3 separate regions of the Homo sapiens genome follow, and regions 1 and 2 are each linked to region 3. Evidence: fine-mapped expression QTL. A gene starts in region 3. Each other region holds a variant in brackets. All regions are shown on one strand. Distances are between the middles of the regions. Region 1 overlaps SLC16A9 (solute carrier family 16 member 9). Region 2 overlaps MRLN (myoregulin). Region 3 holds the start of SLC16A9 (solute carrier family 16 member 9).

Evidence for each region.
Region 1: its variant is fine-mapped to the expression of SLC16A9 in thyroid (GTEx, PIP above 0.99).
Region 2: its variant is fine-mapped to the expression of SLC16A9 in cerebellar hemisphere (GTEx, PIP 0.98).

Annotation. Positions count from the first base shown.
Region 1 is chr10:59,685,242-59,687,741 of GRCh38, forward strand. The region is part of intron 1 of SLC16A9 (solute carrier family 16 member 9); the gene reads right to left. Among named protein-coding and RNA genes, the nearest start is that of SLC16A9, 23 kb to the right of the region's middle. The variant A/T (reference allele first, on the strand shown) is at 1,551.
Region 2 is chr10:59,747,204-59,750,049 of GRCh38, forward strand. The region is part of intron 1 of MRLN (myoregulin); the gene reads right to left. Among named protein-coding and RNA genes, the nearest start is that of MRLN, 4.8 kb to the right of the region's middle. The variant A/G (reference allele first, on the strand shown) is at 1,823.
Region 3 is chr10:59,708,852-59,711,351 of GRCh38, forward strand. SLC16A9 (solute carrier family 16 member 9) reads right to left here and starts at 999. Exons shown (of 6, transcript NM_194298.3): 1 at 628-999. RefSeq lists an enhancer at 142-341 and silencers at 572-631, 772-841, 1,072-1,341.

The sequences.
Region 1 (2,500 bases), 24 kb before region 3:
ATAGGATGTATACATATGGCTGTATGCTTGCTTATTTATTTACTCACTGAATAGGCAAAAACACTTGCATGGTTCATAATGAAAAAAAGACAAAAGATAAACAGTCCCCTGTCTACCTATTTCCCATCTAAGCCTTATCTCCTCCACAGGTAACCAATGCATCTTGTTTCTTGTATAGCCTTCTAAAGTTTCTTTATGCATACACTGGCAAACTCAAGTATAGATTTCCCTTATTTTTTACACACAAAAAAATAGCATATTATATACATTGGTATGTGCCTTGTTCTCTTTCACTTGACAAATATCTGGAAGATCTTCCACATCAATGCATACTGACCTTCCTTATTCATTTCTTACTTCTGCACTGTATTCCAGTATGGGACTTTATCTTAGTTTGTTCGACCAGTCCCTGTGGCTTTAATGGAAAACAATGTGCAGTGAAAAACCTTACATATTCATATATCTTTTTGCTTATAGGCATATTTGTTAGGTAAAATCCAAAAGAGGAATTGCTGAGTCAAAAGGAATATACATTTGTAATTGTAATTTCAGAAAATATTGAAAAAGCTGAGTTGGGAGGATCATTGAGGCCAGGTATTACCAAATTAAGTTCAAGAGCATTGAGCTAATTCATATTGTCTCCAGGATTTTGAATGTGTTGTGAAACTTTTGGATTTTTGCAAATTTCTTGGTTTTAAAATAGCATTTCATCATAGTTTCAACTTGCATTTCTTTCTTTTTTTTTTTTTTTTTTGAGATGGAGTTTTGCTCTGTCGCCCAGGCTGGAGTGCAGTGGCGCAATCTCGGCTCACTCAACTTGCATTTCTTACAGTATAAATGTCGTGTACCGTTTTGGAGATGAAAAGCCAGCTGAAATTCCTAATTCTTAGGTGTATATGGATATTCTATTCTGTTCCATTGGTCTGTCTATTCACACATCATTACCACATTTGTTTCATCACAGAATCTTTTTTATAAAAGTCCTTTTACCATATTTTAATCTCTAATGGGGCTTTTTCTGTCTTTATAATTACACTCCTTTTGAAATATTTTGTAGCTATTCATGTTTTCTGTTCTATATGAACTTCAGAATCAGCCTGTCTGGTTCAAAAAGAAATCAGATGATGCTTTCATTAGGACTGAGTTAAATTTAAAAATTGATGTAAGGAGAATTGACCTTTTATGATGTCAACTCATTCTAAGAACATAATATGTTTTGCATTTGTTCAAGTCTCCATCTATGTTCTTAGTGTTTAAAATGTTCCTCAATATTTCATTGTATTGTATTTTTATAGATTTTATCCTCGCTGCTAATATTGTAATTGGGGTCATTTATTTGTCTTCTGTTTGTATGCTTAAAAGCTATTGATGTCTGTATGTTAATTTTACATCCCACTTCCTTACAAAATTCTCCTATTTGTGGTGGATTTTCAGATGATTTTCTTGGGTATATACAATGCACAATGCAATACAGTCATATAGTCACCTACAGTTACAATTTTTTATCTCCTTATATGTCTTAAATTTTTATACTTCCAATTTCCTTTTTT[A/T]TAAAATCAAATGGTAGATTTATTGGCTGTCTCTGTTACACAATGAGATGAAAACATCTTAATTCAGGACATCCTCCACCTTGCTTTGGTTTCCAGTTGTACTGCAAGACCAGTGTCAGGCACATAGGCTGATTAATCAAAGTTTCGCTCTTGCTGCCCAGGCTGGAGTGCAATGGCACAATCTCGGCCCACAGCAACCTCCGCCTCCTAGGTTCAAGCGATTCTCCTGCCTCAGCCTCCTGAATAGCTGGGATTACAGGCACCACCATGCCCAGCTAATTTTTTGTATTTTTAGTAGAGACGGGGTTTCACCATGTTGGCCAGGCTGGTCTTGAACCCCTGACCTCAGGTGTTTCACCCATCTCAGCCTCCCAAAGTGCCAGGATTACAGGCATGAGCCACCGTGCCTGGCCCCTAATTTCCTTCTTTTGTCTTTGCATTGAACAGTACATACAGAATAATACCAATTAACAAAAGTATACATTTTTGTCTTGTTCTTAACTTTAGTGGGAATGCCCTCAAATACCATGATGTTGCCTCTGGTGCTTTGTTGGATTTCTTTTACGAAGTTAAGAAAGTAATTTGCATTTTTATATTTTTGAGTGTTATTATAAATAATTGTTATTACATTTTATCAATGTATTTCCAGTGTATAGGAAGATGGTCATACAATTTTCCCTTTATAACTCTTAATATGATAAAATATATGTTTTCTACTACTGAAGCATCCATGAATTATTGGATTAAATTTCCTTGGTTCATGCATTGTTTTGACTATGTTAGTCTATTTTGGCGGAGGAATTTTTTACTTCATAGGCAAAATTTGTCTATTTTTGTTTTTGATTTCTACTAGTGTTGGTAACCAAATGGTGTTTACTTTATTTAAAGCTTTGGGCTGGGCACAGTGGCTCATGCCTGTAATGCCAGAACTTCAGGAGGCCAAGGAATGG
Region 2 (2,846 bases), 39 kb after region 3:
TTTCTCCCCTTGACCTCCTTAACATTAACTAAGCTGAGAAATAATAAGAATGCTGCCAAGACATGGTGTTTGAGAGATGGGTCTAGAATCAGACTGACAGAGTTTGAATCTCAGGTCTGCCACTGTGCATGAGATCTTAAGCAAGCTACGTTAACTCTGTGCCTCAGTTGGCACTTCCATAAAGTGGGGATAATGGTACCTGCTTCTTAGGGTAGCCTGATAATTCAATGAGATAATGCTTGTGCCTAGAAAGTAAACATTTAGTAAGTGATAGTGTCTATTATTAATTACAGTTTAGCATATTACTGTTAGACAGTAGCCCTTGAATGAATCATTCTTCTCAAGTTCTCTTTAAGTACCTAAACAGGCAAAACTGTTAAACTCCTATTCATCCTTTGAGATTCAATCTCACCTCCTCTGTTATCCAATCTGACTTCCTTAGACAGAATGTATTTCCGACTTGTCCGTAACATGTTGCCAGTGACCACACTGTATCATGGTTGTTTACATGCAATACGCTATAGTCAGTGATGCTTTCCTAGAAGGTAGGGGACGGCCTTATTCATCCTGGATTCCAGTGCCTCACACTCTCCGACACTAATTAGTTCTCAAAAAATACTGACTTGACTATACTTAAAGCAGAAGCTTTCTGGGAAGAATGAAAGTTCACTTTGTCCAAATGACAATTACAACAAGAAAAACATACATAATAAGTCTACTTCTCCCGGCAAATAATTTTAAAAATAAAATCCCAAAGTTGGGTGCTTGCAACTTGTCTCCCTATGGAGAACATCTCCCTTTCCCAGAAAGTTTATGTTCAAGACAACTGTCTTTTAGAAACTTGAGAAATCATATGAGAACTATGTCTTATTAATGCTTTTTCTTTTGTTTTTTTTTTTTTTGCTTATAATTAGGGAAGCAAGTCAAGTTGTTGGAAGGCAAGAAAAACTTGGCACAGGACGTGCAGGGTTTTAGAATGGGATGATCTGTTGGGATGGCCACCGTTTCTACAGCATACTGGAGGTTTGCCCTCACTAAACTCAAATTCGAGTAATTTGGGAAAATTTGGGCATATGCAATGGTAAATGGATTTTTTGTGTTCTGTAAGCTTCTAAAATTTGAGTTCAAGCTGCATTTTCTGAGCTCATTAAGGTCCCCTTCAATTCTGCCCGAAGTTGAATTATATGAGAAAGGAAATTTAACACAAATCTGAGAAATTAACTTATCAATGACATGAACATTATATCATAGAAAGCTTGTATGGGAATTAAATAATGCATATGGCTGTATGTTTAAATGATGGCAGGCATTATTCTTGCACCTTGTTTCCTGATTAAGACATGATCTCAGGTCAATTATTCTCTTTCCAGCTAAGAAAAACAATAAGGGGGAAAGACTGGAAATACTAACGAAATGTTGGTATAGAAAAGATATTGGAGCTTTTGTAAACTTCTCATTTGACAAACAAGGCCCAGAGAAGTGCAGAGACTTGTCTGAGGTCACACAGTGACTTTTTCCAAAGCTAGTGCTACAATTGCCTCAGCAATTTTCTGACATTTATGATAGACTGGATTCTGCATTTCACCAGTCAGCTACGTGAGGAGAGTCTACCTTCATCACCCTCCAACATCTTTGATTCCAGCCCATGTATAACCAGAGAGTCCAGATCAAAGCAAATCACAAGTGAAAAGTAGAAAATGTGGCAGGTCAGGGCCACAAGGCAGAGAATTTGACAAGTGGACTTCGACTGAACACAGAAACATGTTAGTCACAGATGATCAGTCAGCAAGGTGGAGTGAGGAGAGAGTACAGGATCTGAACC[A/G]GATGGAACCAGTTTGAGATCCTGGCTCTTACCACTATTAACTCTGCAGCCTTGGACAAAGCACCTGACCTCAGATGCCACCTCATCTGGAGAACAGAGAGAGTAATATCTGTCTTGTGGGGGGTTGAAAGGACTTTATTCATAGCTAAAGTTCAGTGCCTTCTATACACACTTATTTTTAATCTCATAAAACTTTATGAGGTGGAATATTCATACCACTATTTTCTTATTCAAAAATACAGAAACCCAGAGAGGTTAAGATAGCTGTCCAACGTTACACACGTACTAAGAGGTGACCAAGGATTTTTATGGAGATTTGTTTGGCTCCAATGCCCACGGCCTTAGCCACTGCAATATTGCAGGACTGGTAAAAATGTAAGCCAAGAGGCCAGGCATGGTGGCTCACACCCGTAATCCCAGCACTTTGGGAGGCCAAGGCAGGCAGATCACCTGAGGTCAGGAGTTGGAGATCAGCTTGGCCAACATGGCAAAACCCTGCCTCTACTAAAAATGCAAAAATTAGCTGGGCGTGGTGGTTCGCACCTGTAGTCTCAGCTACTCAGGAGGCTGAAGCACAAGAGTCGCTTGAACCTGGCAGGCAGAGGTTGCAGTGAACCGAGATCGTGCCACTAAACTCCAGCCTGGGTCTCAAAAAAAAAACAAAACAAAACAAGCAAACAAAAAAAGTAAGCCAAGAGCCCAGCATGCTGCCTGACACTCAATAAATAGTGCCTAGTTCAGTGAAGCAGCAGATTCAGAAAGATGGCCACTTCCTTGCAGCCCAGCCATGAAGAGGGATGGAGTAGCTCAGTTAGATGAGAGGAAACAAATAGCCCTTAAGAGATGGAAAGCCCAGAGAAGCTGAGGCAGACACACAGACACATGAGCAGCAGGGTGTTGGCTCGCCTGGCAGCACTCCTGAGGGTCCATCTGATCACCCACCCGCCCCAGGTCAGAAAGCAGGTTTCAGACCTGTCAGGAGCCACTGTGTTTCTCTTCTCTTCAATGGAACCTCCCTTGCTCT
Region 3 (2,500 bases):
GCGCGGTGCCGGTGCCTCCTGCGGCGGTGGCGAAGGCTGGGCTCCCGCGCTCGCCCAGGGCTGCCGGGTGGTGCTGAACCTGGCGCCAACGTGCAGAATCCGCCGGCCCTGCGCGCTGCGCTCCACGTAGGTCAGGAGTACCCGCGGCGCCCCATTCCCAACCCTCCGGGGGCACCTGGTTGCTCGCGCTCCGGACCAAGGCAGTTGGAGGCCTTTCGGTCCTCTGGGAAATGGAGGCCCACCTGCATCACATGCACCTCTCCCTGCTCTTCCACCAGCAACCCTGGAAGCTCTCTGGAGTCCAGAGGCAGCTCTCTGGGGGGCCACCGTACCACCCCCAGGACCCCCTCCCTCTCTTTCAACTCCGTACAAAATGCCGCCTTCGGATTCCCGGGAAAACTTGCCCACTTTGTAGAAGCACCCCATCAAAAAGGGGGCGGCGAGGGGCGGGCGCACCGTGGACACTCGAAGCCCCCGGCACACACCCCAGACAAAAGCCCGGTTCCATGCTGCTCCACCGCCCCCTCCTACTGCTCCGAGTCGGAGTTACTTCTTGCCTCTAGGACGCTGGGCAGCAGGGGCTGCTGCCCACCTTTGGAACCCTCCCCGCAAGCTCCAGCCCTTTACCTGAGTCCCGGCCTCGGCGGGGCCTCCGGTGCTCAGCACCCGGCTCAGTGCCCCGTGCGGCCGGGCTGGTGGTGTGGTGGGGATCGCGGCCGCCGCTCTCCCCTGCAGCTCCGGGCCAGCCGGGCGGCTATTTATCCGAGCCAGCTGCGGCCCCGGCCCCTGCCGGAGTATTAGGCAATCGGTCCCGCTACGCGCTGCCCCGGGAGCCGCCGCCCTCTGCCCCCACAGACCCGCAGCGGCGGCGGCCACATGGAGCTGGGGAGCCGGCCCCCTTCTCTGAGCTCCACCTTCTCTTTCGCCTTCTCCTCCCCGGGGTTTTCCCTGCTGTCTTTTTCTCCCTTGTCTCTCTTTGCGGGGCACCCCGGCCAGTCTGAACCGGTTGTGACTGCGCGGGTGGTTGGGGGAAGGAGGAGGAGGAGGCGGAGGAGATGGAGGCGGAAAAGCGGGCGGTAGGGGCGCTGCGCCTGCTCCCGCTGCTCCCGGCCCGGCCAGGAGTAGGGAGGGCACTGCCCGAGCCGCGGCCCCGGCCCTACCAGGCCTGGAGCCACCAAAGCCACGAGAGAGGTGGGCGCCGTCGGCCAGGCGCCCTCTCGGTGCGCACACACGCGCGTCCCCAGGCGCCGCTGTGCCCCCGCCGCCCACCACGTGCCCTGGCCAAGCCCGCCAAGGGCCGTGCGCGTTTGGGGGGAGCCGGGGTGTACAAATGAATGCGAGTGTTCCTTGGTCTCCCTGGCTCCCGGGGCCGCTGGCGCCCTCCTGGCCGGAGCTGTATGCTCAGCTGGCAGTGGTCCCGGAGAAACGGGCACCAGAACTTTGTGGAGTCCGTGATCCTGGGAAGTGAGGAGTGAGGATGCCAAGTACAGTCCTTTGTGACAGCTCCGCGGGAAAGGAGGGCGTCCTGCGGTGCACACACACACACACACACACACACACACACACACACACACACACACACAGGCTGCTTCTAAGGACGTTCAGTCTGTCCTGCAGTTGAACTGCACTAACAATACTACCATTGGCAATACTATCTTTGGTAATGGGCTTGCGCGCAGAGATGGATGGCTGTTTTATCCCTCAGTCACTGCAGCAGCTGGGGGCTGTCCATAGGTACCAGTGGTTCGCCGGCCGTGGGAAACCTCCAAAGTGATATGCACTTTTTGTGTTCCTCTGTGTTTTTTCTGGGAAGCCGCACCACACTTTCTACTTCTTAAAGGGGACTGCGGCCATCAACCACCTTGATGAGAACTTCCTTTATACACTGAAGTGACAGGTCCTGGCCTAGACGAAGACTCTACACCTGGCAAAGGGTTGGTTTCAGAAGTGCTGATCAAGCTGCTGAGCCTCTGTTTCCTTGTCTATGAAATTACAAGAATCTTGCCTGTATCATGGAGTTTGTGTGAGATGAGAGTTTAAAAAACCTGTGGAGCCTAGGCAACCATGTCATGTTTTCTTACAGCACAAATGTGGTGGAGGTTCAGCCCTTTTGGCCCCCATCAGTCCTTTCTACTCAATTTATTGACTTTCAGGTTAGAGTGAAGAGAATGACCACTGCTAGTCAATAGTATTTTGTTTTGTTCTAAGAAGGAAAAAGAGAAGAGGGGAAAAGTAACAGTGAGAATGAGAGCAACATGGTCCCAAGAATAAGTTCTGGAAGGAAAAATGGAGAAACTGTACTGTCAACACCATAAAAAACTTACTTCTAAAGAGGCAAGGGAACACAATAGGGGATTCTTAGGCTGTATTTTTTTACCTGGTTTATGGTTACTCAAGTGCGTTCACTTTGTGGTAATGCGTTGACCTATACACTGATAATTTGTGTTCTTTTCTCTATGTTTCAATAAAATAGTTTTTTTGAGATGGAGTCTTGCTCTGT